7 linked regions of the Homo sapiens genome follow. The protein of the gene in region 1 interacts with the protein of each later gene in a pairwise test. Each region holds a gene or a part of one and is shown on either strand. Other genes may lie near its edges.

What was found.
Region 2: the proteins of AGTRAP (region 1) and MCEE interact in binary tests that used the Homo sapiens proteins (3 or more experiments, as listed by UniProt).
Region 3: the proteins of AGTRAP (region 1) and HSFX1 interact in binary tests that used the Homo sapiens proteins (3 or more experiments, as listed by UniProt).
Region 4: the proteins of AGTRAP (region 1) and KIR2DL3 interact in binary tests that used the Homo sapiens proteins (3 or more experiments, as listed by UniProt).
Region 5: the proteins of AGTRAP (region 1) and FARS2 interact in binary tests that used the Homo sapiens proteins (3 or more experiments, as listed by UniProt).
Region 6: the proteins of AGTRAP (region 1) and GABARAPL2 interact in binary tests that used the Homo sapiens proteins (3 or more experiments, as listed by UniProt).
Region 7: the proteins of AGTRAP (region 1) and PTPN9 interact in binary tests that used the Homo sapiens proteins (3 or more experiments, as listed by UniProt).

The regions. Positions count from the first base shown.
Region 1 is NC_000001.11:11,742,636-11,746,135, forward strand, and holds part of AGTRAP (type-1 angiotensin II receptor-associated protein), read left to right. Parts: intron 1-1,897; coding exon of another isoform or gene 1,898-1,933; intron 1,934-3,167; coding exon 3,168-3,202; intron 3,203-3,491; coding exon of another isoform or gene 3,492-3,500. UniProt on the Homo sapiens protein: Appears to be a negative regulator of type-1 angiotensin II receptor-mediated signaling by regulating receptor internalization as well as mechanism of receptor desensitization such as phosphorylation.
Region 2 is NC_000002.12:71,120,230-71,123,729, forward strand, and holds part of MCEE (methylmalonyl-CoA epimerase, mitochondrial precursor), read right to left. Parts: intron 1-3,500. UniProt on the Homo sapiens protein: Methylmalonyl-CoA epimerase involved in propionyl-CoA metabolism.
Region 3 is NC_000023.11:149,772,863-149,776,867, reverse strand, and holds HSFX1 (heat shock transcription factor, X-linked), read right to left. Parts: upstream 2,801-4,005; 5' UTR 2,187-2,800; coding exon 1,623-2,186; intron 786-1,622; coding exon 78-785; 3' UTR 1-77.
Region 4 is NC_000019.10:54,737,204-54,741,312, forward strand, and holds the start of KIR2DL3 (killer cell immunoglobulin-like receptor 2DL3 precursor), read left to right. Parts: upstream 1-1,309; 5' UTR 1,310-1,342; coding exon 1,343-1,376; intron 1,377-2,303; coding exon 2,304-2,339; intron 2,340-4,109. UniProt on the Homo sapiens protein: Receptor on natural killer (NK) cells for HLA-C alleles (HLA-Cw1, HLA-Cw3 and HLA-Cw7). Inhibits the activity of NK cells thus preventing cell lysis.
Region 5 is NC_000006.12:5,362,513-5,366,012, reverse strand, and holds part of FARS2 (phenylalanine--tRNA ligase, mitochondrial), read right to left. Parts: intron 1-3,500. UniProt on the Homo sapiens protein: Is responsible for the charging of tRNA(Phe) with phenylalanine in mitochondrial translation.
Region 6 is NC_000016.10:75,572,879-75,576,378, reverse strand, and holds part of GABARAPL2 (gamma-aminobutyric acid receptor-associated protein-like 2), read right to left. Parts: intron 1-3,500. UniProt on the Homo sapiens protein: Ubiquitin-like modifier involved in intra-Golgi traffic. Modulates intra-Golgi transport through coupling between NSF activity and SNAREs activation. It first stimulates the ATPase activity of NSF which in turn stimulates the association with GOSR1.
Region 7 is NC_000015.10:75,523,816-75,527,315, forward strand, and holds part of PTPN9 (tyrosine-protein phosphatase non-receptor type 9), read right to left. Parts: intron 3,447-3,500; coding exon 3,303-3,446; intron 484-3,302; coding exon 394-483; intron 1-393. UniProt on the Homo sapiens protein: Protein-tyrosine phosphatase that could participate in the transfer of hydrophobic ligands or in functions of the Golgi apparatus.

The sequences.
Region 1 (3,500 bases):
TTCTCCCACCTCAGCCTCCCAGGTAGCTGGGGCTATAGATGTACTCCACCATACCTGGCTAATTTTTTGATTTTTTGTAGAGATAGGATCTTACTTTGTTAGCCAGGTTGTTCTCGAACTCCTGGGCTCAAGCAGTCTTCTCCCTCCACCTCCTAAAGTGTTGGGATTACAGGCGTGAGCCACCAGACCTGGCCCACAGTTCTTTTTTGCAGGTGGTGAGGGCTCCTTCTGCCCTTCCACCCAGGCCAGAAACCCCGGCCTTCTTCGCAAACCTTGCCCATGTCTGCGCCAGGACACTGCCTCTGCCCCAGGCATGTGGCATCTCTCCCTTCCAGCCTGACCCCTCAATCCCTTGAGTAAACTTCTAGGGCCCTCATTGACCACCAGGCCCGTTGAAGCTCCCAATTTGGGGCTCCTGGCCTCCCAAAGTCTCTGTGCCACCCCACCCCGACCTCAGTTATCTCCATGCCCACCGCCACCCATGCAGGGCCTGGGGCTTGGCCCCACTTTGCCTGGCCGAGCCCCGCTCATACATTGTGCTCAGCCTGGGTCCCTTCCCTTTGGAAGCTCTTTCTGCAGCTGCCTGCCCTCCCAAGGCATCTGTCTTTTCTTTTCTTTTTTTTTTTTTGAGATGGAGTCTCACTCTGTCACCCAAGCTGGAGTGCTGTGGCCCATTTTGGGCTCACTGCAACCTCTGCCTCCCAGGTTCAAGTAATTTTCGTGCCTCAACTTCCGGAGTAGCTGGGATTACAGGTGCCCACCACCATGCCCAGCTAATTTTTGTCTTTTTAGTAGAGACAGGGTTTCGCCATGTTAGCCAGGCTGGTCTCGAACTCCTGACCTCAAGTGATCCACCTGCCTTGGCCTCCCACAGTGCTGGGATTACAGGGGTGAGCCACCGCGCCCAGCCCATCTGCCCTTTTTCTTTCTTTCCTTTTTTTTTTTTTTGAGGCGGAGGTTTGTTCTTGTTGTCCAGGCTGGAGTACAATGGCGCGATCTCGGCCCACTGCAACCTCTGCCTCCTGGGTTCAAGCGATTCTCCTGCCTCAGCCTTCTGAGTGGCTGGGATTACAGGCATGTGCCACCATGCCCGGCTAATTTTGTATTTTTAGTAGAAACGGGGTTTCTCCATGCTGGTCAGGCTGATCTCGAACTCCCGACCTCAGGTGATCTGCCCACCTCAGCCTCCCAAAGTTCTGGGATTACAGGCGTGAGCCACTGTGCCCAGCCTCCATCTGCCCTTTTTCTATGTGCTTTCCAGTCAGGGCCTTGTTGATGTCCCGGAGTAGAGACCAGTTCCAGGAGAGGAGGCTGTCATTTTAAGGACACAGAGGACATTAAAAAGGGTAAAATATTGTAGCTGGGTGCAGTGGCTCCTGCCTGTAATCCCAGCACTTTGGGAGACCAAGGTGGGTAGATTGCTTGAGCCCAGGAATTTGAGACTAGCCTGGTTAACATAGGGAGACCTTGTCTCTACAAAAAAACAAAAATTAGCTGGGCGTGGTGGTACACACCTGTAGTCCCAGCTACTGGGGAGGCTGAAGCAGGAGGATCACTTAAGCCCAGGAGTTTGAGGCTGCAGTGAGCTGTGATGGCGCCACTGAACTCCAGCCTGACCCACAGAGCAAGACCCTGTCTCCAAATTTAAAAAGAAAAAAGTAGAATATTGCAGAAATCCAGAAAAATAGCCAGGGGGATTTTGTTGTTGTTTTTCCTTACCATAAGGCATACCAAGCTATCTCCCTGTAGAAAAGTCTCAGTGGTGTCCCTCGTTGCACTTGGCATGAAGCCCACGCTCCTTCCCGAGGCCCTCAGGCCCCCCTACCTGTCCCCAGCTACCCTCCCTTTGCCCGCTCTCTCCAGCCACAACAGCTGCTTTCCCCTCTGCCCCCCACAGTGCGCCAGCTCCAGTGTCCCAAGAAATCACCCTCACGTGAGTCCCCACCGCTCCGCTTCCCATCGAGGCCTCTTCTGATTTCAGAGCAGATTCCCTGCATTCCACAAAGGAGCCTCCCACCCTTGTGTTACAGGAAAGGGGTCCCAATCCAGACCCCAAGAGAGGGTTCTTGGATCTCGCACAAGGAAGAATTCAGGGCGAGTCCATAGAGTAAAGTGAAAGCAAGTTTATTAAGAAAGTAAAGGAATAAAAGAATGGCTACTCCATAGGCAGAGCATCCCTGAGGGCTGCTGGTTGCCCTTTTTAAAAAAATTAATTAATTAATTAATTTACTTATTTTTGAGATGGAGTTTCTCTCGTCGCCCAGGCTGGAGTGCAATGGCACAATCTCGGCTCCCTGCAACCTCCACCTCCCAGGTTCAAGCAATTCTCCTGTCTCAGCCTCCTGAGTAGCTGGGATTACAGGCACACACCACCATGCCCGGCTAATTTTTGTATTTTTAGTAGAGACAGGGTTTCACCATGTTGGCCAGGCTGGTCCTGAACTCCTGACCTCAGGTGATCCACCCACCTCGGCCTCCCAAAATGCTGGGATTACAGGTGTGATCCACCGCGCCCAGGCTGGTTGCCCATTTTTATAGTTATTTCTTGATAGTATGCTAACCAAGGGGTGGATTATTCATGCCTCCCCTTTTTAGACAATATAGGGTAACTTTCTGACGTTGCCATGGCATTTGTAAACTGTCATAGTGCTGGTGGGAGTGTAGCAGTGAGGACAACCAGAGGTTACTCTCGTGGCCATCTTGATTTGGGTGGGTTTTAGCCGGCTTCTTTACTGTAACCCGTTTTGTCAGCAAGGTCTTTATGACCTGTACCTTGTGCTGACCTCCTGTCTCATCCTGTGACTTAGAATGCCTTAACCATCTGGGAATGCAGCCCACTAGGTTTCAGCCTTATTTTACCCAGCTCCTATTCAAGATGGAATTGCTCTGGTTCATACGCCTCTGACGCTTGGAAGGGGTGTGGGTGTCAGCTGCCCCATGGGAGGGGTGAAGGCATGAAGCGGCCCCTCCCTGGCCTGGCCTGCTTTCTTCCTCCTCCTTCACTCCTGGGCCACCTGCAGTTGCTGGTGTGCCTTTTCAACAGACATTACTGAGGCCCTCAGAGGTGCCAGGCGCAGGGGCGTCCTGTGTTTTCTGCACCCGACGCTTTCCTGCCCCTGTGGTGGTCATGTTCACAGACCTCTTCTCTCCCCCTTGTTGTGCCACAGGTGATTCTCCTAGGTCACTGGCTGCTGACAACCTGGTAAGTGACTCTGTGGGTATCTTGTGTGTCTCCTGCGGTCTCAGGGTCTGTGTCAGCCGGGTCAGGTCCTGGTTCTGCCGTGTTTTAACCAGGTCACTTTGGGCCAGACAGCTCTGCCTCTCCGGGTCTTGATTTCCGTCTGTACAATAGGCATAAGGATTGCACACCCTGCAGGAGCTGGGAGGGAGACGTGGAAGTGCTCATCAGAGCTCCCCAGGGCCTGCCCCACAGTGAGGCCTCAGCACTGCAGCTTGATTTTCACCTTTACCATCTCTTTTAATCTGTTGAGCTTCTGGAG
Region 2 (3,500 bases), on another chromosome or scaffold:
TTAAAGTCTTCACTGTGACACACTGTGCTGTCTGGCTAAGTTCTCCAGAGAAAGCACGGCCAGCTTTGTCTCCTCAAGCAGAGGCACGCAGAAGGCAGGGAAGGTGACCCCCCTCTTGCCATCGCAGGCAGCAGTTAGGAGCACAAACACAAGCTGTGCCAGAAAACAGTGGGTGATTCAGTCCATACTTGAGCAAGAGAAGAGATGGGACAAGATGCCCTCTAAAATTCCTCTAGTGAGAGGCAAAGACACACAAGAAATATGAGTAAACCTCACAAGAAAAAGTAGAAACCAACTCAACCTCGACAGAAAAATGCTAATTAACTATTGAGATCGTAATCCACATGTGAGAAAGGAACATTTCGTCAAGTGAGTCAACAAAAACCATGGAGCATGCACCAACAGATATATGCTAAGTCAGAGGTTTTATAAGATCCTGGTGAAAAAGGACAGAAAGTAGCCCTGTGATTACAGAGGGGAAAGCCAATTCTCTGATGAGTGGTTCAACATTTTTTTTTTTTTTCCTGAGATGGAGTCTTGCTCTGTTGCCCAGGCTGGAGTGAAGTGGCATGATCTTGGCTCACTGCAACCTCTGCCTCCCAGGTTCAAACGATTCTCCTGCCTCAGCCTCCCAAGTAGCTGGAATTACAGGTGTGCGCCGCCACGTCCAGCTAATTTTTGTATTTTAGTAGAGATGGGGTTTCACCGTGTTGCCCAGGCTGGTCTCAAACTCCTGAGCTCAGGCAATCTGCCCACCTCGGCCTCCCAAAGTGCTGTAATAAGCATGAGCCACCATGCCCAGGTGACACACCACTTTTTAAAAATCACCAAGCGTGGCATCCATTGATGGCCTCCAGTACCTTTCTCCTTTTCCTCCTTTTAATTACAGCAACCCCCAAGCTTCAGCAGGGCACATAACTGCCTAGCTAGAGACTACATTCCCCAGCCTCCCTTGCAGAGAAGTGTGTCATGTAACTAAGCTTGGGCCAATGGGATAAGGACAGAAGTGATCCTAGAGCATCTCCTTAAAGCCACTTGCCAGGTATTCCCACTCCACCTTCCCTTCCCTTCCCTCTGGCTGGCAAATGGTGATGCCTGGAGCAACCTTGTAAGTCATGTGTCATGGACAGCAGAGCTGCCCATCAGCCTGGGATAGCTAATATTAGACTGAAAACAGAAAAATAAAATCTTGTTAAGCCACTTAATTTTTTTGTGGAGGGCAGAGAATGATGATGGGGGTATTATACTAAAATAGCACCTAACTAACCACTGTTCACACCTTCTCCTCTTACCTACCTTCATTTTATATCCAATACATTTGCATGTCCCCCTTATAATCTCTGCTTTTGAATCTGCCATTACTGAACTTCCACTATTCCTTACTTAACTGAACTAAATCACATAGCTGAACTCCTTTGAAAGCATGGGCTCTCTTGATGGAATACTGATAGTGCAGTGTGGGAGAGGGGGGAGTGGATTCAAAGGTCCTGCTTCTCATCCTGGGGGGTGGGGTAGGGCTTAGACAAACACTCAGGTCCACTGACAAAGACCTGCAGCCAAAAGTAACTCCCTAAAAATAAAATAAAGGCTAATATTAGGACTTGTTTAGTTCCCTGCTTAAGGTCTTATAGCTTCCCCACCGCAAATTTAAAACTCAGTTAATATAATGAAGGCAACTGGCATCATGGGTAAGAGTGCAGACCCTGGAATCAGAACCAATCTGGGATTCAGCCCCATACCTGCTATTGATATGACCATGGGCAAATTAACTACTCTGTCTCAGTTTCCTTTCCTGTCAAATGGGGATAATAGGGCCCTCACAGGGTAGCTATGAAAATTCAAGAAAATAGTATGTGTTGAGTTACTTTGTAGACATACTACTAGAGGACTCACTAAATGTTAGTTCTTTTTTTTGAGACAGGGTCTCGCTCTTTCATTCAGGCTAGAGTGCAGTGGTGTGATCACGGCTCACTACAACCTCCACCTCAGCACTTCCTGGGCTCAAGTGATGCTCCCACATCAGCCTCCCAAGTAGCTGGGACTACAGGTGCATACCACCACACCTGACTAGCTTTTTGTATTTTTAGTAGAGACACGGTTTTGCCATTTGGCCCAGGCTGGTCTCAAACTCCTGGGCTCGAGCAATCTGCCCACCTTGGCCTCCCAAAGTGCTAAGATTACAGGTGTGTATTAGTCCATTTTCACGCTATTGATAAAGACATACCCGAGACTGGGCAATTTACAAAAGAAACAGGTTTAATGATTTACAGTTCCACGTGGCTGGGGAGGCCTCACACTCATGGCAGAAGGCAAGGAGGAGCAAGTCACATCTTACATGGATGGCAGCAGGCAAAGAGAGACAGATTGGGCAGGGAAAATCCCCCTTATAAAACTGTCAGATCTTGTGAAACTTATTCACTATCACAAGAACAGCACGGAAAGACCTGCCCCCATGATTCAATTACCTCCCACTGGTCCCTCCCACAACATGTGGGAATTCAAGATGAGATTTGGGTGGGGACACAGCCAAGCCATGTCGAGGCATAAGCCACCACACCCAGCCACTAAGTGTTAGCTGTTATGATAACTCTATGCCTTTCCACATGCAATTCCCTCTGCCTGAAATAACTTTCTCCTTTTGTTCACCTAGGGAATTCCTTCACATTCATTGTAACTTATGCTCTGTGAGGCCTTCCCAGCAACTCAATCTGCCAGGAGCAATCAATCTCCTTCATCTGTGCTACTGCAAAGTCACATATATCAATTCTACTTATCATAGTATATTGCACTTGGGTGTTTAAATTTCTGACCCTCCTCACTATGGACATGACTCATGTCTTATTCACTGCTAAATCCCAAGTACTTGGCAGAATACACATTATAGGGTCTCATACATGTTTGCAATAATGAACTGAATACATCCTTGAATTCACTCTAGAATCAAATGACCTCTCCTCTGTATTAGAAATTTGGCCTAACAGGCCAGGCAAGGTGGCTCACGCCTATAATCCCAGCACTTTGAGAGGCTGACGTAGGTGAATCACCTGAGGTCAGGAGTTTGAGACCAGCCTGACCAACATGGTGAAACCTCATCTCTACTAAAAATACACAATTAGCCGGGCATGGTGGCGCATGCCTGTAATCCCAGCTACCTGGTAGGCTGAGGCAGGAGAATCACTTGAACCCAGGAGGCAGAGGTTGCAGTGAGCCGAGATCACGCCACACTGCACTTCAGCCTGGGCGACAGAGTAAGACTCCGTCTCAAAAAAAAAAAAAAAAAGAAAAGAAAAAGAAATTTGGCTTAACAATTATGTCATTCTTTCTATAAAAAGAATTGTCCTAGCAAATTAAATCGATGCATAATTGTCATTGCTGATATTCTAAAAGGCAGTTATCTGAACATGAACATCTATAGAAATGTTCTCTAATGGACTTTTCTTGTCTAACATTTCTTCACATTCCTTTAAAAATTGTTGGCAGGTGCAATTCAGAAGATCTTA
Region 3 (4,005 bases), on another chromosome or scaffold:
TTTTTTGTGCAGTCAGAAAATTACTCATTTTCTGACACATTTATTGACCAGCACATATTCTGCCCAAATGCTGCCCTCTATGTGCTCTGGTCTGCGTAGTCTGGGTACGCCTGGGGCCCATCGCTAGCTGGCATGTACTGTGACGTGCGGTGGCTGTGGGGGCAATGGTGGTGCAGAGCTGGGAGATGGGGGAACATGACCATGGAGGCAGCAGGCTGTGCAGCCCCAGCAGCCACTAGGGTCACCGGTACCCAGAGATGGCAAAAGGGCAGCATGCCAGGTGCAGGAAGTCCTGTGGTGTCCATGGCAAGGGTACTACGGGACGCTGTGGGAAGGGCCACCACAGGCCCGTAAGAATTCATCTGAGTGGGAGATCCAGGGACATAGAGGAAGGGCAGCGCTGCAGGCCCAGGGACAGCGGCCACCGGAGTGACGTGAGCCTGGCTGCCCTCTGACCACTCGCCGGCCGGCTGGGTCACTGGACTGTTGTCACTCGCCACGGCGGAATCAGGCACCATCACAGGAGTTGCTGGTGGAGCAGAGCCACTCCTGATTTGGGTGTTGGGACCGGCCGGTTCCCGGTGTTGCGGTGTGACCTGGTCATTCTCATTCGGAGACGTGTGATCTTGTTGCTCAGTGTCTGCTGGTGCCAGACAGGATCCAGCAGCTTCTGGCTTGTCCTCCTCCTGATGTCTTGGTGCAGACTTGACACCCACTCTTCTCTTCATCCTCACGAGGAGGTGAGGGGAGTCTCTTTGAAAGTAAGGATGGCAGTAGAACTCTAACTATAAGTCAAAGTTTAAATAAACAAAAGGAAACTGCAAGTCACAAGGATGGACTACAACTACCAACCATCTACGCCCCTGTGCAAGAGAACTCTACTGGCCCAGGAGGCCTTTCTGGAAAAGGTCCCAGTCCCCAAAGGAAGCTGGGGACTCGCGTTCACATCGTCAAGGTTTACCAAGTTGTGGCGGGCCTTTCCGTCTTGGAAAAAGCCTCAAAATGGCAGATTAGGGTGTCCATGGCCGGCGGAAAGGGTCTTTGAAGTTGCAGACCAGGAGGGAAGAAGATTCTGGGCCTCCCCCATGCAGTGTCAGCTGGCAACAGAATGCACCCCGGCTGGGTTGGAGGCCCTGGGTACTGGCTCTTCCACACCAGGGGCCCACCTACCAAGGGCAGCAGGAGCATCTGCACCTCCTGCGCCAGGCGCCCTTCAGTGCTTCCACTTGAGCACCTCTCCAGACACCAGCTAGGGTGACAGTGGTACAAATACCAGACTCCCCTGGCCTGCTCACCTCACAGGGTAATGTGCTGTGGAGTCAGGGGGACACAGCAACCGCCAGATGACATGGCTGGCCCCGGGGAGGACGACACGCAGATACGGCTACTTGGCACCTGTGATATTTTACACACTCGAGAGGGGCCCGCACCATCCTCAGCCCTCTCCCCACATTCACTCTTAGTTCATGTCACCTCCACCCAGAGGGGGACACAGGCCCACAGCGATGGCCCCACACCCTGCCTGAGGTCGCCCACTTCCCAGGAGGCAGTCCTGGGACTTCCACCCGACCAGGCCCCAGAGCCCACCGACTTAACCCCTCCAGAGGCTTGTCGTTCATTACCTTATTCAAGATGGAGACCAGCCTTTTTGCGGAGAAAATGCGGGTGAAGGTCCTGAAAGTGCATTGACGCCGTTTTCGGAAGCCATACAAGTTTAGCTGGCGGAAGAAGCTCTTTATCGAAGTTGTGGCAAACACTTTGTGTGCGACGTCCCTTTTGAGAATCTCCTTTTCAAAGAGTTTTTGATTGATCACTCTACAAGCCCCACTGTCATCCCACCAGATGGACGAAAACTGGTTGCTGCTGACCAGTCTCCACAGTTTCTGTGGAAAGGGGAGGGAGAGGAGATTATCTTCTCCCTGGGGCGGGACGTCACCGTCAGGGTGCGGCCTTCTGAACGAAGCTTCCTCGGCCAGAGGTTGGAAAGCGATTTCTTCTGTCAGCAGCCTCAAGTTAGGGCTCCCAGTGGACCCCGGGTCGTCCCAGGCAGGGGAAGGATCTGCTGGGTGAAGGTAGGTCTCTGACTGCAACTGGGGAGGGAAAGGCACCCTTTCCAAGCCATGATCCTGTCCTCTCGAATTTCTTTCTTCACAGCGAGCCATACTCAATGATCGCTTGTCCTCCATCTGGCAAACTTGCTAGTGCAGTGTGGCCAGCAGCACCCCTTGGCAGTCATGTAACCAGCCCCATGACATCATAAAGGGGCTCTGACTGCCGGGGGGTGGCATCTCCACCCCCAGCAAGTTGTGTAATAAAGGGCCAAGGCAGACAAGTAGCTGCCCATCTGCATGTGCACATTCTGGTCCTCACAGTCATTTCAATGGGAAAGATGACACTAGTGCACAAGAGTGCCGAGGGGCCCTGCCACACCGTAGATGCAGACCTGGAGCGGTCCCCTTGTCCTAGAGCTCCTGAGCCAGGCACAACTACAGCAAAGCCCTGGCTCAGGAAGGTCAGAGCTCACCGTCTGAGTCATGGGCCCACAGACCCCAGCACATGACTGACACTCGGAAGCACAGAACAAAGGGTAGGACGGTGCCCATGGGTCAGGCTGTAGCCACGCCACCCTTTCCACCCTGTCCTAGCCAGAGGCAGCAATGTGCTCCATACAGATCCTCCTAACACACCCACACTGTCGGTCCCCAGCACGCAGATGCCCGACAGCCCCTTAGGCAAATGGCTTAGCTGACTGCCCCACCACACGCCGTCGCCATGCAGTCCAGTGGGGAGTCGGAGGCAGCCTCCTTCCTGCCTCTCCTCGGCCTGCACGTGTCCCCCCACCAGGCAGAGACCCTTCTACACCCCGGGTGTCTGCGGTCACATCGCGGTGGGGCATGCAGCTGTTGGCCTTCGAGCATGTTTTGTTTTCCTTGGCCAGTGTCTCCAGAGAAACGCACGTGGGTTTGTGTCCAGCGGTCCATCTCTGCAACAGTTGTTCCTTTGGGATTGGATGCTAGGAGGTCACGGGAGAGGTGTCCATCCAAAGCAGTGTCTGTGTCACACACTGTCCCCACACACAGGGCCACCTCTGCACAGACTCCCCCGACTCGATTCTGGGCACAGAGCTCAGTGACCTTCCAGAGACTGCCACGAACCGGTGATGCCTCCACGCTTGAGACATCCTGACCGCAGGGCCCAAGGCGCACTGGCTCAGGGGGTGACAGTGAGGGGTCTGCAAACAGACTGCTGATGCTCAACCCGGCCGCTGCCGAGCTGTGTGACTTGGGCACGTCACTTAACCTCTCTCGGCCTCTGTCTCCTCCCGGGGATAAGAGTAGTAGCACCTGCTTCCCGGGGCTGTGAGGATCCAGTGGGACGTATAGGAACTAGCGAGGCACCGGCAGTTGGGTCAGAGCTACTGTTGTCACTTCACAAGGCATTTTCTTCAACAGCAAGTCGGAAATCTCATGAGCCTAAGGCAGAATCCACCTGTGGCCTCTGGTTACAACCCACAGGACTGAAAATCCTTCCAGCCACAGCAACTGGTGAATTTCCTGGTCAATTGCCACAAGTCATGAGCTGAACCCCACTTGAGTTTCAGTTCAGGCAGAACTCTAGAGACGACTAGGGCAAGCTAGACAGCGACTGCAGAGCCTTTTGTTGCAGCGTGAGCAGTCCTCAGCTGTTGACATCACTGGGGAGCAAACGAGGACCAGGAGCGGTGAAAGGACAGTGTCTGCTGCAGATTGTCGTAGCACCCAAGGAACACTCCAGAAAGCCTCCTAAGCAGTAACAAGTGTGGCAAGGTGTAGCCCAGCCAACAGTGGCATCTGCGAGGCGTCCCCTCCTTCCTCCCACTACCCCGTATACCCTGGGACCTGTGCACTGAAGGACTCATTCTAAAGGCTGTGCCCCTGCAGCCGCCAGCCTCACTCACTGGCTGCCTGTGCCAGCTAGAGATTTCTTTCCTCTGAGGCTGGCTGAGAGGACCACTCCAGTTTCCTG
Region 4 (4,109 bases), on another chromosome or scaffold:
TGCTATTTTTTTTTTTTTTTTGAGACAGTCTCACTCTCTCACCCAGGCTGGAGTGCAGTGGCGTGATCTCAACTCACTGCAACCTCCGCCTTCCAGGTTCAAGCGATTCTCTTCCCTCAGCCTCCCCAGTAGCCTCCCCTAGGATTACAGGCACGTGCCACCATGCACAGATAAATTTTTTTGTGTGTATATTTTTAGTAGAGATGGGGTTTCAGAATGTTGGACCAGCTGGTCTTGAACTCCTGACCTTGTGATCTACCCAGCTCAGCCTCCCAAAGTGCTGGGATTACAGGCGTGAGCCACGGTGCCCAGCTTCACTATGCCATTTCATGCAAGGGGCTTGAGCATCTGCAGATTTTGGTATCTGAATGGGGATCCTGGAACCAATCACCCAGGTATAGTGAAGGACCATGGTATATAATTTTTATTTGTCAATCTTAAAAATAAAGCATAAAAAATTTACAACAACAAGATAAAAAATAAGAAGTGTTTTTATAGTGTGAGGATAAGTTTAGATTTATTTTTTCCTACGTGTAACCCTATGGTCCTGTGTTATTTGTTGAGAAAATATTCTATTCCACCTTAAACTACATGGCAGCCTTTGTCAACTATAAAGGGACTGTGTATCCACAGATGTATTTTAGACACAGTTTTCTGTCCAGTGGTTCTCTGTATCCCCTCTCATGAGGATGCTGCATTTTATATAAACTTATAGAACCCCTTAAAATTTGGTAACCTGAGTCCTCTGATTTGTTATTATAGGTTATTTAGTTTGCTTTTTTTTTTTTTCTTGAGACAGACTCTTCCTCTGTCACCCAAGCTGGAGTTCAGTGGCTTGAGCTCAGCTCACTGCAACCTCCGTCTCCCAGGTTCAAGCTATTCTGATGCCTCTGGTTTAGTAGTAGAAACTCAAGCAGGAAAATTAGAATGGCTTCTTGTCACAATTACTCTGATAATGTTAATAATACCTGTTAGACATTTTGCACATTACATATGAAGAAGAGTTTGAATCTCAGATAAAAACAAAAATACATCAAAAATCTTTAATGTAAGCACAGAATTCAATCATCTCGTGTATGAGAGGTTGGATCTGAGACGTCTTTTGAGTCTGGTCGTAGTGAAGGACGCAAGGTGTCAATTCTAGTGAGAACAATTTCCAGGAAGCCATGTTCCGCTCTTGAGCGAGCACCCACTGGGCCTCATGCAAGGTAGAAAGAGCCTGCGTACGTCACCCTCCCATGATGTGGTCAACATGTAAACTGCATGGGCAGGGCGCCAAATAACATCCTGTGCGCTGCTGAGCTGAGCTGGGGCGCGGCCGCCTGTCTGCACAGACAGCACCATGTCGCTCATGGTCGTCAGCATGGTGTGTGTTGGTGAGTCCTGGAAGGGCATCGAGGGAGGGAGTGCGGGGATGGAGATCGGGGCCCAGAGTTGGAGATATAGGCCTGGAAGTGGAGTTATGGGCCTAGAGATGGAGTGATGGGCCTAGAAGTGGAGATCTGGGCCTGGAGTGGAGATCTGGGCCTGGAGTGGAGATATGGGCCTGGAGGTTGAGATATGGGCCTGCAGTAGAGATATGGGCTTGTAGTGGAGACATGGGCCTGGAGATGGAGATATGGGCCTGGAGATGGAGATATGGGCCTGCAGTAGAGATAGGGGCCTGGAGTGGAGATATGGGCCTGGAGTGGAGATATGGGCCTGGAGTGGAGATATGGGCCTGGAGGTGGAGATATGGGCCTGGAGGTGGAGATATGGGCCTGGAGTGGAGATATGGGTCTGGAGGTGGAGATACGGGCCTGCAGTAGAGATATGGGCCTGGAGTGGAGATATGGGCCAGGAGTGGAGTTATGGGCCTAGAGGTGGATATCTGGGCCTGGAGTGGAGATATGGGCCTAGGAAGGAGATATGGGCCTGGGTGTGGAGATATGGGACTGGAGAGGTGATATGGGCCTGGAGTGGAGATATGGGCTTAGGGTGGAGATCTGGGCCTGGGGCGGAGATATGGGACTGGATTGGAGATAGGGGCCTAGGGTGGAGATCTGAGCCTGGATTGGCGATATGGGCCTAGGGTGGAAATATCAGCCTGGAGTGGAGATATGGGCTTGGGGTGGGGATATGGGCCTGGAAACTGGGTCTCTGCACAGCCGACAGCCCTGTTCTTGGGTGCAGGTAGGCACTGAGGGTGAGTTTAACTTCAGCCCAGGAAGGGCCTGGCTGCCAAGACTCACAGCCCAGTGGGGGCAGCAAGGGAGGCCTGGTTTGCCTGCAGATGGATGGTCCATCATGATCTTTCTTTCCAGGGTTCTTCTTGCTGCAGGGGGCCTGGCCACATGAGGGTGAGTCCTTCTCCAAACCTTCGGGTGTCATCTCCCCACATAAGAGGATTTTCCTGAAACAGGAGGGAAGTCCTGTCGGGGAGTCTCTCATAAACTAGGAAGAGAGGACCCTGGGGTGCTCAGCCCACATTTCTGACCTCGCCTCCCTGGCCTCTCAACCCCTTGGCAGAGTCAAGTTCTGTGGGGACCAGGGTTAGACTGGGGTGCTCAAAGCTGGGGTGTGTGGTTGGGAAGTGGTAGGAACAGCAGATCCTCTGAGGACAAAGGTGTTACTCACACACTTCAGCGTTTCCATGATGGTAGGGGCTGCAGTGTGGCTGCTGTCATTCTACCAGAAGAGGTGGGAAACCACAGCCATGGCCCTGACATTCCAAATCCTCTGATGGGGGCTCAGTTGTTTATTTTCGTTCAGGCATCCGCTGATATCCATTCACAAAGGACATGCCCTCCACCTCATGTCTACCCTGTGTTGTTTTATGTGAGTAATCTTACAGTATTAAAATCTAGTAGGAGTCTCTTTACTCAGCACTTGCTCAAAGTTCTCAGCTGAGGCTTTTGTTGTAGGGAGACACCATGTCTTTGCGGGATGGGTCCTTCCTTCAGCCCTGGGCACCAAGGTGTGATAGTAGCCATAGAAACGTGGAAAGCGAGGAGAATCTTCTGAGCACAGGGAGGGAAGGGCAGTTCCACATCCTCCTCTCTAAGGCGGCGCCTCCTTCTCCCCAAGGTGGTCAGGACAAGCCCTTGCTGTCTGCCTGGCCCAGCCTTGTGGTGCCTCTAGGACATGTCATTCTTCGGTGTCACTCTTATCTTGGGTTTAACAACTTCAGTCTGTAAAAGGAAGGTGGGGTGCCTGTCCCTGAGCTCTACAACAGAATATTCTGGAACAGCCTTTTCATGGGCCCTGTGACCCCCGCACACACAGGGACATACAGATGTCGGGGTTCACACACACACTCCCCCAGTGGGTGGTCAGCACCCAGCAACCCCCTGGTGATCGTGGTCATAGGTCAGAGGGCTCCTGTCTTGGATTCTCCTTGTCCCACCTCCTGAATCCCAGAGCTTCTGTTGGGCATGTCCTTGAGGGTCCCATCACGCAGGCCCTGACTGTATTTGTGGTAAAGGGGGATTGAATACAGGGAAATGGGTGCTGTGGTGGGAAGAATAATTGTCCCCAGTGATGACTACATTCTAATCCCTGGAGTCTGTGACTATTTATGTTATAGGGGAAGGGACTGAAGGGGAAGATGGAGCTCATGGGGAGACAGCCTGGACTGTCCCACTGGGCTCAGTGTAATCACAAGGGTGCACATGAAAGGAGGAGGAAGAGGGGAGTGGGGATTAGAGCAGTCCAGTGGAAGTCTTCACCAGCTTTGAAGGTGGAGGAAGGCCAAGATCCATGAATGCAGGTGGCCTATAGAGGCTGGAAAAGTCAAGGAACTGATTCTCCAGAGTCTCCAGAGGGAACAAAGCCCTGCAGATGCCTTGATTTTAGCCCAGGAAAAATAGGGTCCAATTTCTGTCTCCAGTACTGGAAGGTGTCAGTGTGGTCTCTCCTGCTGCCATGCTTCTGATAATTTTCTACAGCAGCAACAGGAAACCAACACTGGAACCCAGGTCAAGGACAAGTTAAGAAACAACCCAAGGAAAGCCAGGCATGGTGGCAGGTGCATGTAATCCTAGCGACTCAGGAGGCTGAGGGCAGGAGAATCACTTGAACCCAGGAGACAGAGGTTGCAGTGAGCCTAGACCACACCACTTCACTCCAGC
Region 5 (3,500 bases), on another chromosome or scaffold:
TATCTCTTCTACCTCTGCCACCCCTGAGAAGGCAAGACCAACCCCTCCTCTTCCTCTTCAGCCTACTCAACATGAAGATAAGAATAAAGATCTTTAGGATGATCTACTTCCACTTAATAAATAGTAAATACATTTTCTTTCCTCATGATTTTCTTAATAACATTTTCTTTTCTCTAGTTTATTGTAATACAGTATATAATGCCTATAACATACAAAATATGTGTTAATCAATTGTTTATGTTATCAGTAAAGCCTCCAGTTAACAATTAATAGTTAAGTTAGGGGAAGTCAAAAGGTATACAGGAATTTTCAACTGACTGAGGGAGGGTAATCAGTTGTCCAGGGGTCAAGTGCATTTCTCAGTAGGGTGTGGTGGCTCACGCCTATGATCCTAACACTCTGGAAGGCCAAGGCGAAAGGATCACTTGGGCCCAGGAGTTTGAGAGCAGCCTGGGCAACATGACAAGACCCTATCTCTACAAAAAAAAAAAAAAAAAAAAAATTTTATTTAATAAATTAGCCGGGTATGGTGGCACACACCTGCAGTCCCAGCTACTGGGGAGCTAAGGCAGGAGGACTGCATGAACCCAGGAGTTCAGGCTTCAGTAAGCCAGGATTGCACCACTGCACTCCAGCTTGGGTGACAGAGTGAGACTCTGCCTCACTAAAAAAAAAAAAAAAAAAAAAAAAAAAAAGAAAGTATACTTCTCAATCAAAGGTCCAAGATTGTTAAGTTCAAATGGTATCTCTGCAAGGACCTCCCTTAACTTCTATTTTATCTAATTGAGATTATACATCAATGTGTTTTTAAATACATAAATAAATGCATGAATAAGTAAATCCAATAAAACACATTAGCTTAGATAGTAAAAATGAAATAAGTATTTACAGACCCAAGGGCCAAATCTGCCCACAGTAGTCTGTTTGGGGTTTTTTTTTTTGGCTTTGGCTTTTTTTTGTTTCTGAGACAGGGTCTTACTCTGTCACCCAGGCTGGAGTGCAGTGGGATGATCATGGCTTACTGGAGCATCAACCTCCCAGACTCAAGTGATCCTCCTGTCTCAGGCTCCAGTGGCTCCCTGCCCCAGAGATAGCTAGGACTACAGGTGCAAGCCACTATGCCCGGCTAGCTTTTGTATTTTTTGTAGAGATGAGGTTTCGCCACATTGCCCAGGCTGGTCTCAAACTCCTGCCTCAAGTGAGCTGCCCACCTCAGCCTCCCAAAGTGCTGGGATTACAGGCTTAAGCCATCGTGCCTTGCCCATAGTCTGTTTTTACAAATAAAGTTTGTTGGAACACAGCAACAGCCATTTCTTGATTTATCATTTGCCATGGCTTTCTTGCTATCAAGGTAAGATTGAATAGCTGCTATAGAGATTGTGTTGCTCACAAAGCCTAAATACTCACTCTCTGGTCTGTTATAGAGTTTGCTGAGCCCTGTTTTAGCTTAACCTACTGAAAAATTTTTCTACACTATTAATAAAATCTTCCTAGTCACAAATATATGTAGATTATAAAGTCACAAAAAAGGAGCAAGAATACAAATGTGGACGTGAAGTATGTTAGCACTGGTACAAAAGAAACAATCAGACCAACTATAAGAAGAGAAAATACAATATAATGGGCAATAGGCCAGACTTCGCAGAGATACTAATGTTGGTTTGATCCTAGGTTGATCTCTTAGGTGCCATGTATCATCCTTAGAAACGTTATTTGACCCTTCTGGCCTCAAGGTTCTCATCTGTAAAACAGAGAAATATAATACTTATCTCATAATGAAAAGATTATACTAGATCATGTTCATCAGCTAATTAACTCATTGCCCAGTGTGTAACGGGTAAGATGAGCTGAATTCAGGGTTAAAAGTGACCCAGAGATTTCTAGAGATCGGGTAACGGATGAACTAATAAAGTCATTCACTGACACAGAGAACTCAGAATGGATTTTTGTTGTTTGTTCAGATCATCTTTTGTAGAGGGAAACAGATTTGGACAATGGAAGTTCAGTATGAATGAGATAGCCACATTACAATTTCTGTAAGGCAATTCGAGTTATATTATAGTTTGGAAATGAGGTAAGACATTAATCCTGGAAATGTAGACCTTGGAGGTAATTTGCATAGACGTAAGAGTTAATATCACAAGCGTATATAAGAATCCATGGGAGGCTAAGAGCAAGATATAAGTGGGCAAAAGATAGAAGAATACTTGGAACTTATCATATTTAAGGGAAGGGGATGTAAGGAGTAAGACAGAGGGGACGTAAAGGGTGCCACAGCACAGAAGTCAGGGGAAAAGACATCTAGAAGGAAACGGGCCTGTTTCCTGGACCCAAATACCACTCAATGTGCAATGTTTAGCATGCCGTATTATTACTACCTGCTGTTGTCTGTATTCCTACTAGCCTGTGTGGTTCTTGAGAGTAGAACACACAAACACATATATATACACATACTCTTTCTCTCCTCTCTCTCTTATATTTATCATCGTATGCCCATAATCTAGCACTACATGTGATGCTGGGTGGAAGACGCGGGAAGAAGAGAAATAGGAAGAAAAAGAAAAGAATGGAAGGAAATTGGTCAGCAAAAACAAAACAAAGAAGGCTGCCTCTTTGGAAGGGGCAGTAAAGAACTATTTAAAAACTCAATAGAGTGAAGAGACAACTCACAGAATGGGAAAAAGTATTTACAAGCCATGTATCTGGGAAAAAGCTAATGTCCAAAATACATAAGGAACTCACGCAACTCAACAGCAAGAAAGCAAATAACTTAAAAATGGGCAAAGGGGCTGGGCGAGGTGGCTCATGCCTGTAATCCCAGCACTTTGGGAGGCCGAGGTGGGTGGAGCATGAGGGCAGGAGAACGAGACCATCCTGGCTAACACGGTGAAACCCCATCTCTACTAAAAATATAAAAAATTAGCCAAGCATGGTGGCGGGCACCTGTAGTCCCAGCTACTTGGGAGGCTGAGGCAGGAGAATGGTGTGAACCCAGGAGGCAGAGCTTGCAGTGGGCCGAGATCGCGCCACTGCACTCCAGCCTGGGCGACAGAGTGAGACTCCATGTCAAAAAAAAAAAAAAAAAGAAAGAAAGAAAAATGGGCAAAGGATCTGAATAAAGATTTCTGAAAAGAAGACATATAAATGGTCAATAGGTATGTGAAAAAAAATCCTCAAAATCACTAGTCATCAGAGAAATGCAAATCAAAAGCACAATGAGATAGATACACTTTACACCTGTTAGAACCGCTATTACCAAAAAGAAAAGGTAAGTGTTGGTGAGGATGTGGAGAAAAAGGAACCACTGTACACTGTTGGTGGGAATTTAGAGGAGTATAACCATTATGGGAAATAGTATGGAGGTTCAAAAAAATTTAAAAATAGAACTATTAACATATGATCCAGCAATCCCACTTCTGTGTATATAACACAGGAAATGAAATCAGCATGTCAAAGAGACATCTGCACCCCCTTGTTCACTGCAGCATTATTCACAATGG
Region 6 (3,500 bases), on another chromosome or scaffold:
CCTCAACCTGAGGAAACAGTGACTGCCCCACTTGCTGCTTTGCTCCTCAAGGGCTGAGTGGAACCTCCATGTAAACATGGACAAATACCACATTTATGAAGGGGGAGGTTTTGAGTTTTTTTCCTGTTCTTCCTGCCCCATTTGCAAGCTTAGCTCGGATGGCTGTGTGGGTAGATGAGAATTATTAAGTAACAATGTGGGGGAGGTCTGAATTTGAATATGAAAGAACCTGTCATCAGCATCTTGTACAATAAAAACGGTGCTCCCTGTGAGGACCTCTTAGCCTGGAATTTGTAAAATAAGGACTCCCTGGAACAGAACTGTTCAATAGAAATCTCTGCTCTGATTGAAATGTCCTGTATCACTGCCACAGCAGCCACTAGCTACATTCAGCACTTGAAAGTCTGGCTCGTGTGAATTGGGATGTGCAGTGTAAAACATAAACAAGGCTTCAGACTTAGTATGAAAATGCAGCAAAATAGCTCAATTTTGATTACATGTTGAAATGATAAAATTATGGATATACTGGGTCAAATAAAATATATTAAGTGGATCACCTGAGGTCGGGAGTTCAAGACCAGCCTGACCAACATAGTGAAACCCTGTCTCTACTAAAAATACAAAAGTAAGCCGGGCGCGGTGGCTCACACCTGTAATCCCAGCAGTTTGGGAGGCCGAGGCGGGTGGATCACAAGGTCAGGAGATTGAGACCATCCTGGCTAACAACGGTGAAACCCCGTCTCTACTAAAAAATACAAAAAATTAGCTGGGCGTGGTGGCGGGCACCTGTGGTCCCAGCTATTCAGGAGGCTGAGGCAGGAGAATGGCGTGAGCCTGGGAGGCGGAGCTTGCAGTGAGCCGAGATCGTGCCACTGCACTCCAGCCTGGGCGACAGAGCGAGACTCTGTCAAAAAAAGTATCCAGGCATGGTAGTGCACGCCTGTCATCCCAGCTACTCGGGAAGCTGAGGCCGGAGAATCGCTTTAACCTGGGAGGTGGAGGTTGCAGTGAGCCAAGATCGTGCCATTGTACTGCAGCCTGGGCAACAAGAGCAAAACTCTGTCTCAAAAAAAAAAAAATTAATTTCAACTGTTTTTATTTTTTTAATGTGGCTACTAGAAAATTCTTAAATTACATATGTGGCTTGCATCCATTTCTACTGACAGCACTGCCCCAGAACAAGACTTAGGGGGCAGTGGGTAGAGGGAGGAACAACGCCTGCAGCCGTGGGTCTCAGCCTTGGCTGCACATCAGAATCTTACTTTAAAGAGAGCTTTAAAAACATCTCTGTGCCCAAGCCCTACCCCAGACCAATGAAATCATCACTATGTTTTGTTTTGTTTTGTAAAGACAGAGTCTTGCTCTGTCGCTTGGGCTGGAGTACAGTAGCAGGATCTCGGTTCACTGCAACCTCCACCTTCCGGTTCAAACAAGTCTCATGTCTTAGCCTCCCAAGTAGCTGGGATTACAGGTGCATGCCACCACGCCTGGCTAATTTGTTTTTGTTTTTGTTTTTAGTAGAGGTGGGATTTCACCATGTTGGCCAGGCTGGTCTTGAACTCCTGACCTCAGGTGAGCCACCGTGTCCGGCCTCATCAGTATATTTTTAAATGCCAAAAATGATTCCATATGCAGCCAGGTTGCAAAGGGAAATGCCTGACCTTTTGTTGGGGGGGAGAAGGGAGGGTCATCTTTAAAAGCTATGTGATTAGGAAGTAGAGTGACAAGCCAGGAAGTGAAATGACAAGCCAGAAACTAGCAGAAGGGCTTGAACATGTAGCTGAGTCTCCCAAGATTTTTACCCTGGTGGTTGAGAATGCCCAGAGAGTAACCCCATTTTTCTCTGAAACTCCTCAGAATGAGGCTAATGGGAAAACAACTACAGCTACTGCCACAACTCTTTACCCCATTTGTCCAAGTGTCCAGGGTGATCTTGATGACAACTGTCGTAACATCTCCCCGCTGCCACTACCAGATGGGTTTAGATGCAGTAGCAGACATTGTGTGCAATTCAGAGTCGCCCCATAGTGTCTCTGTCAAGTTTGGTTCCAAACAGACTAAGTTCTGCTCTTTTCCTAGCAAGTTAGAAGCCCTAGTACAATGATTCTAAATCCCGCTGCTACATTAGAAACATTTGAAGAGCTTCGTAAACACCAGCAGCCCACCCCCGGGCCTGTGTATGCTATCCAGGGTGAACAATAACCACTGGACCGCTACTGTTGAAGGCAGGTCGTGAGACTCTGAGCCCTGACTCTTGGCAGGACAGGAGGCCCACAATCATGTGGCTTTCATTCCTTTCTGGCTTTAGATTCCATTGTCTTTTAAGTAAAACTTGGGTTCATTAATTTGTTTAAGCAGTGCCCTAGTAGCTACAGAAGCTGATAGTAAAAATCCTAACTATAATGGCAACACATGTGCCAAGCACTGCTTATACATTACATGTATTAACTCTTTATCCTCAAAACAATCTCATGAGGTAGATGGTACCATAATCCATAGTTCCTAGATAGGAAAACTGAGGCACAGAGATTCTAAATTCACTCCAGGTCACAAAACTAGGAGACCACCAAGCTTTGCTGCCTCCAAGTGATTAGACAGCTAGATCTGCTCTGATGACCTAACATTAGAGTCCTTGTACCTTCTGCAGAGATCTTCCTTAGAACAGTGCTTCTCATACAAATGTTGGTACCAACCATCGGAACATCAAGCTCCCAGGTAAGGCGACTGCTGCCAGTCTCTGCATCACATGCTGAGTAGCAAGGTCTTAGGGCTCTCTCCTTCCCATCTTGTAATTTGACAGTTAGATGCCTCAGTGCGTAAGAACTTAAGAATCCAACAATTTCTCCTTTTCTGACACACAACCTCATGTGGAAACTTAGTTGGCAGTAGCACTGTGTCCTTATAGTCAGGATACCCCTTGGGCAAGGAACTTGGTAACTGAATGCTCAATGCTGAACATGCACCTAATTTTGAGGCTTCACTGGGTGCCATGAAGCAAGACTGATTTGAAAACAGCACTTACGGGATCTGACTGCATACATGCAGAGTCAGAATAATTTGGCCTGCAGCCAAAATGAGCTGGGCCACAAACAGACTTAAAAAAAATTAACTCATTTTTGTAAAGTCCCATTAAATGGATATGCAAATGGAAGTGCAGGGAGACAAAATGTGACCCTTGCTAGCAGAGAGTCTATTAGCAGAAGGCTGGTGTGTCAGTTTGGGACACATTCCATAAACCTCTGAGAAGTTAAACTTCCCCCTCAGAATTTGGAGGCCTGAGCTATACACAGCACTGAGCAGGCCACTGCTAGGATGCCTGAGGATCCTGCAGCACAGAGGCAGCTCTAATGCATCTATCCAGCTAAGCTGCACAGGCTTGCTGGATGCCCTGACAACTCGCAAGTAGCACTGCAGCTCCAAGGCTTGCTGCCTAAGTTGCTGGGAGGTGGCTGTAGAGAACACCTGAAGATGGCCTCCAGTCCCTAACACGAATGCACACC
Region 7 (3,500 bases), on another chromosome or scaffold:
GTAACTCTAATTACTAGAAACTATTAGTAATTCAATTGTTACTAAAATAATTTTATACCAAACTGCATGGCTGTTTCACATCTGCTCCTAACTGTGGAGACTCTCTAGATTCAGGATAAGGTATATAGGAACAAAGTCCAAACAGGGGGGGATGGAGGAGGGATAGCATTAAGAGATATACCTAATGCTAAATGACGAGTTAATGGGTGCAGCACACCAACAAGGCACATGTATACATATGTAACAAACCTGCACGTTGTGCACATGTACCCTAAAACTTAAAGTATAATAATAATAAAATTAAAAAAAAAAAAAAAAAAACAAAGTCCAAACAGGACACCAGTTAAAAAAGGAAGTAATAAGGCCCTACAAGATAGGTCCCTAAACACTCACTAAGATGGTGAATTTTCCACTGAGGATCTCAGAACGAAGAGGTTCCTCATGAGGTTTCAGCTTTACAATGCCTTCCTTCCTTCGAGTTTCCTAAAAAGGAAGCACAGCAAAATGTATTAATATGAAAATACTGTATATCCAGGACAGCACCATGTAACCACCAAATCTCAGAGATAAGGTGGTTATCAATGAATGAATGAATTATAAATTTCATAACTAAATAAATTTTGTAACTAATTTCATAACCAATTCTACTTCATTTAGTTGAATTAGAATTCAATTAAATGGGCCGGGCGCAGTGGCCCACGCCTGTAATCCCACCACTTTGAGAGGCCAAGGCGGGCAGGTCACCTGAGGTCAGGAGTTCGAGAGCAGCCTGGCCAACATGGTGAAACCTTGTCTCGGCTAAAAATACAAAAATTAGCCTGGCATGGTGGTGCGCGCCCATAATCCCAGCTACTCAGGAGGCTGAGGCAGGAGAATCGCTTGAACCCAGAAGGTGGAGGTTGCAGTAAGCCAAGACAGCACCACTGCACTCCAGCCTGGGTGACAAAATGAGACTCTGTCTCAAAAAAAAAAAAAAAAAAAAAAAAGAATTCAGCTAAATGAATAATGAAGTCAACTAAATGAATTATGAATTTCTTTGTAACCTGCCTCCAAGCCAGTCAAGCATTTTCGGAATTCCTGTCCAAAGCTACTTTATCAGCCCCTCAGGTAGGGTATTTTTCTCTGACTCAGTAAGAACCCTAACCCTGAAGAGTAACCAGTATGTTACATTCAGGTGCAGGATCAAGGTTCTTAAACACGCAGCAGCACTGACATGGTACCAGGACACTAAAATATGGACCTCAAAAATGTCTGGATGCCTACGTTCTCACATATTTTCTAGGTTTAGGCCTCTCCTATGTTTAAATAGGAGCCTTCTCTCCACCTGATATTGTCTCCAACAGCAGCTACCATGACTTCATTTTCCTCACCCTGATGGCCAGATTCTTTTTTTTTTTTTAATTGAGACCAAGTCTCACACTGTTGCTGAGGCTGGAGTGCAGTGGCATGATCTTGGCTCACTGCAACCTCCACGTCCAAGAGATTCTCTTGCCTCAGCCTCCTGAGTAGCTGGGATTACAGGCACGTGCCACCATGCCTGGCTAATTTTTGTGTTTTTAGTAGAGACGGGGTTTTGCCATGTTGCCCAGGCTGGTCTCCAACTCCTGGGCTGAAGCGATCCACCCGCCTCGGCCTCCCAAAGTGCTGGGATTACAGGCATGAGCCACCGCGCCCAGCCTCTTCAGTTCTCCTCTTAAATGACAAGGTTGACCACCTACACTTCCTTTTTCCGGAGACATTCTCTACCTTTATATACCGATAACAAAAAAATATTATCTTGGTTTGTCTTATTTCATCAACCGCTTGTTTTAAACCTCTTAGGCTGGGCACGGTGGCTCATGCCTGTAATCCCAGTACTTTGGGAGGCCGAGGTGCGTGGATCACTTGAGCTCAGGAGTTCGAGACCAGCCTGGGCAACATAGCAAAACCCCGTCTCTACTAAAAATACAAAAAATTAGCCAGGTATGGTGGTGCATGCCTGTGGTCCCAGCTACTCGGGAGGCTAAGGTGAGGTGGGAGGATCACTTGAGCTCAGGAGGCAGAGATCTGCAGTGAGCTGAGATCATGCCACTTCACTTCAGTCTGGGAGACACAGCAAGACTCTGTCTCAAAAAAAAAAGTGCTTCCACAGAATCCAGTGCTGCCTTATCATAACATTTCTACAACTCTTTGTTTATTTTCTCTTTCTTTTTTTTTTTTTTAAACAGTCTCACTCTGTTGCCCAGACTGGAATGCAATGGTGTGATCTCGGCTCACTGCAACCTCCACCTCCTTGGTTCAAGTGATTGTCCCTCCTCAGCCTCCCGAGTAGCTGGGAATACAGGTGCCACTACACCCAGCTAATTTTTGTAGTTTTAGTAGAGATGCGGTTTTGCCATTTTGTTCAGGCTGGTCTCAAACTCCTGACCTCAAGTGATCCACCTGCCTTGGCCTCCCAAAGTGCTGAGATTACAGGCATGAGCCACCGCACCCAGCCCTAGTCTCTCTTTCTAAATAGTAATCTCTGCACCTGGAACACAGTAAGTATAAAATAAGTATCTGTTGAGTAAATGAATGAATATTGAATGAGCTGGTCCACAAGACAGATGTAACCAAACTTCAGTTAAGCTAATCCTAGTGCTTGTTATCCCAATTTTTTTTTTTAGGGAGATTTTGTATTTCTTTAGAAGGATTCTGACCCCAAAGTAACATGCTGTATAGTGTTTTATCAAAGACACTACTAACTGAGAAAGCAAACAAGCACAAAACCAAAGTCTATGCCCCCTCAAAAAACAAAAATCAAAACAAAGTAAAATCCTGATGCCGCTACATTTGCATAAAGATACTTTAAGATAATGGACCTAGCTAATACACAGTTGCTCTTCTTTTCCAGTGTTAAAACTTCCCTTCCTGAACTGCCCACTAAGCTCATCATTCATCTGAATGGCAAGTTTCTAAAAGCCTTAGACAACCTGAAAACCAAGATTTTCATGTGGCCAGAGGCCAATGAAAAGAGCTAGGATTAAAACTCTAGGAAGGGTGAACCCCTATCCTGCCACCAGGATGCTGTCAGGCTACTTCCTCCGTCTCAATCATTAGATGTGGCATCCTGGTCTACGATCAAAACTTAGGTACAAAAGTAGTGCCTTCCAGTAGCTGCCTTGCCCAGCTTCAGCTCTCACAAGGGCTCCTGGATATGGATCCATTTTTTATGAAAGTGAGGAGGAACACTTAGAGAACCAATGTGTGTGTCGAGCATGACAGGGACAACAGCAACACTTAACCCAACTGCCACAGGTCTGGTCTACCCCTGAGCCACATACTCTGTAGGAGTGGAACAATTCTATGGCACGGAGCACATCAAACTTCCTTGCCATGAGGAACTTGACAGCCACATTCCAAGACAGCGGGGAAACATTGTACTGAACTGTCCACTTGTTAATCTCTTCGAGAAACTGCTTGGTAGCCTGTTTGACAAAGAAAGAAAGAATAATTAGTAAGAAGAGAGCATATTTATGGAG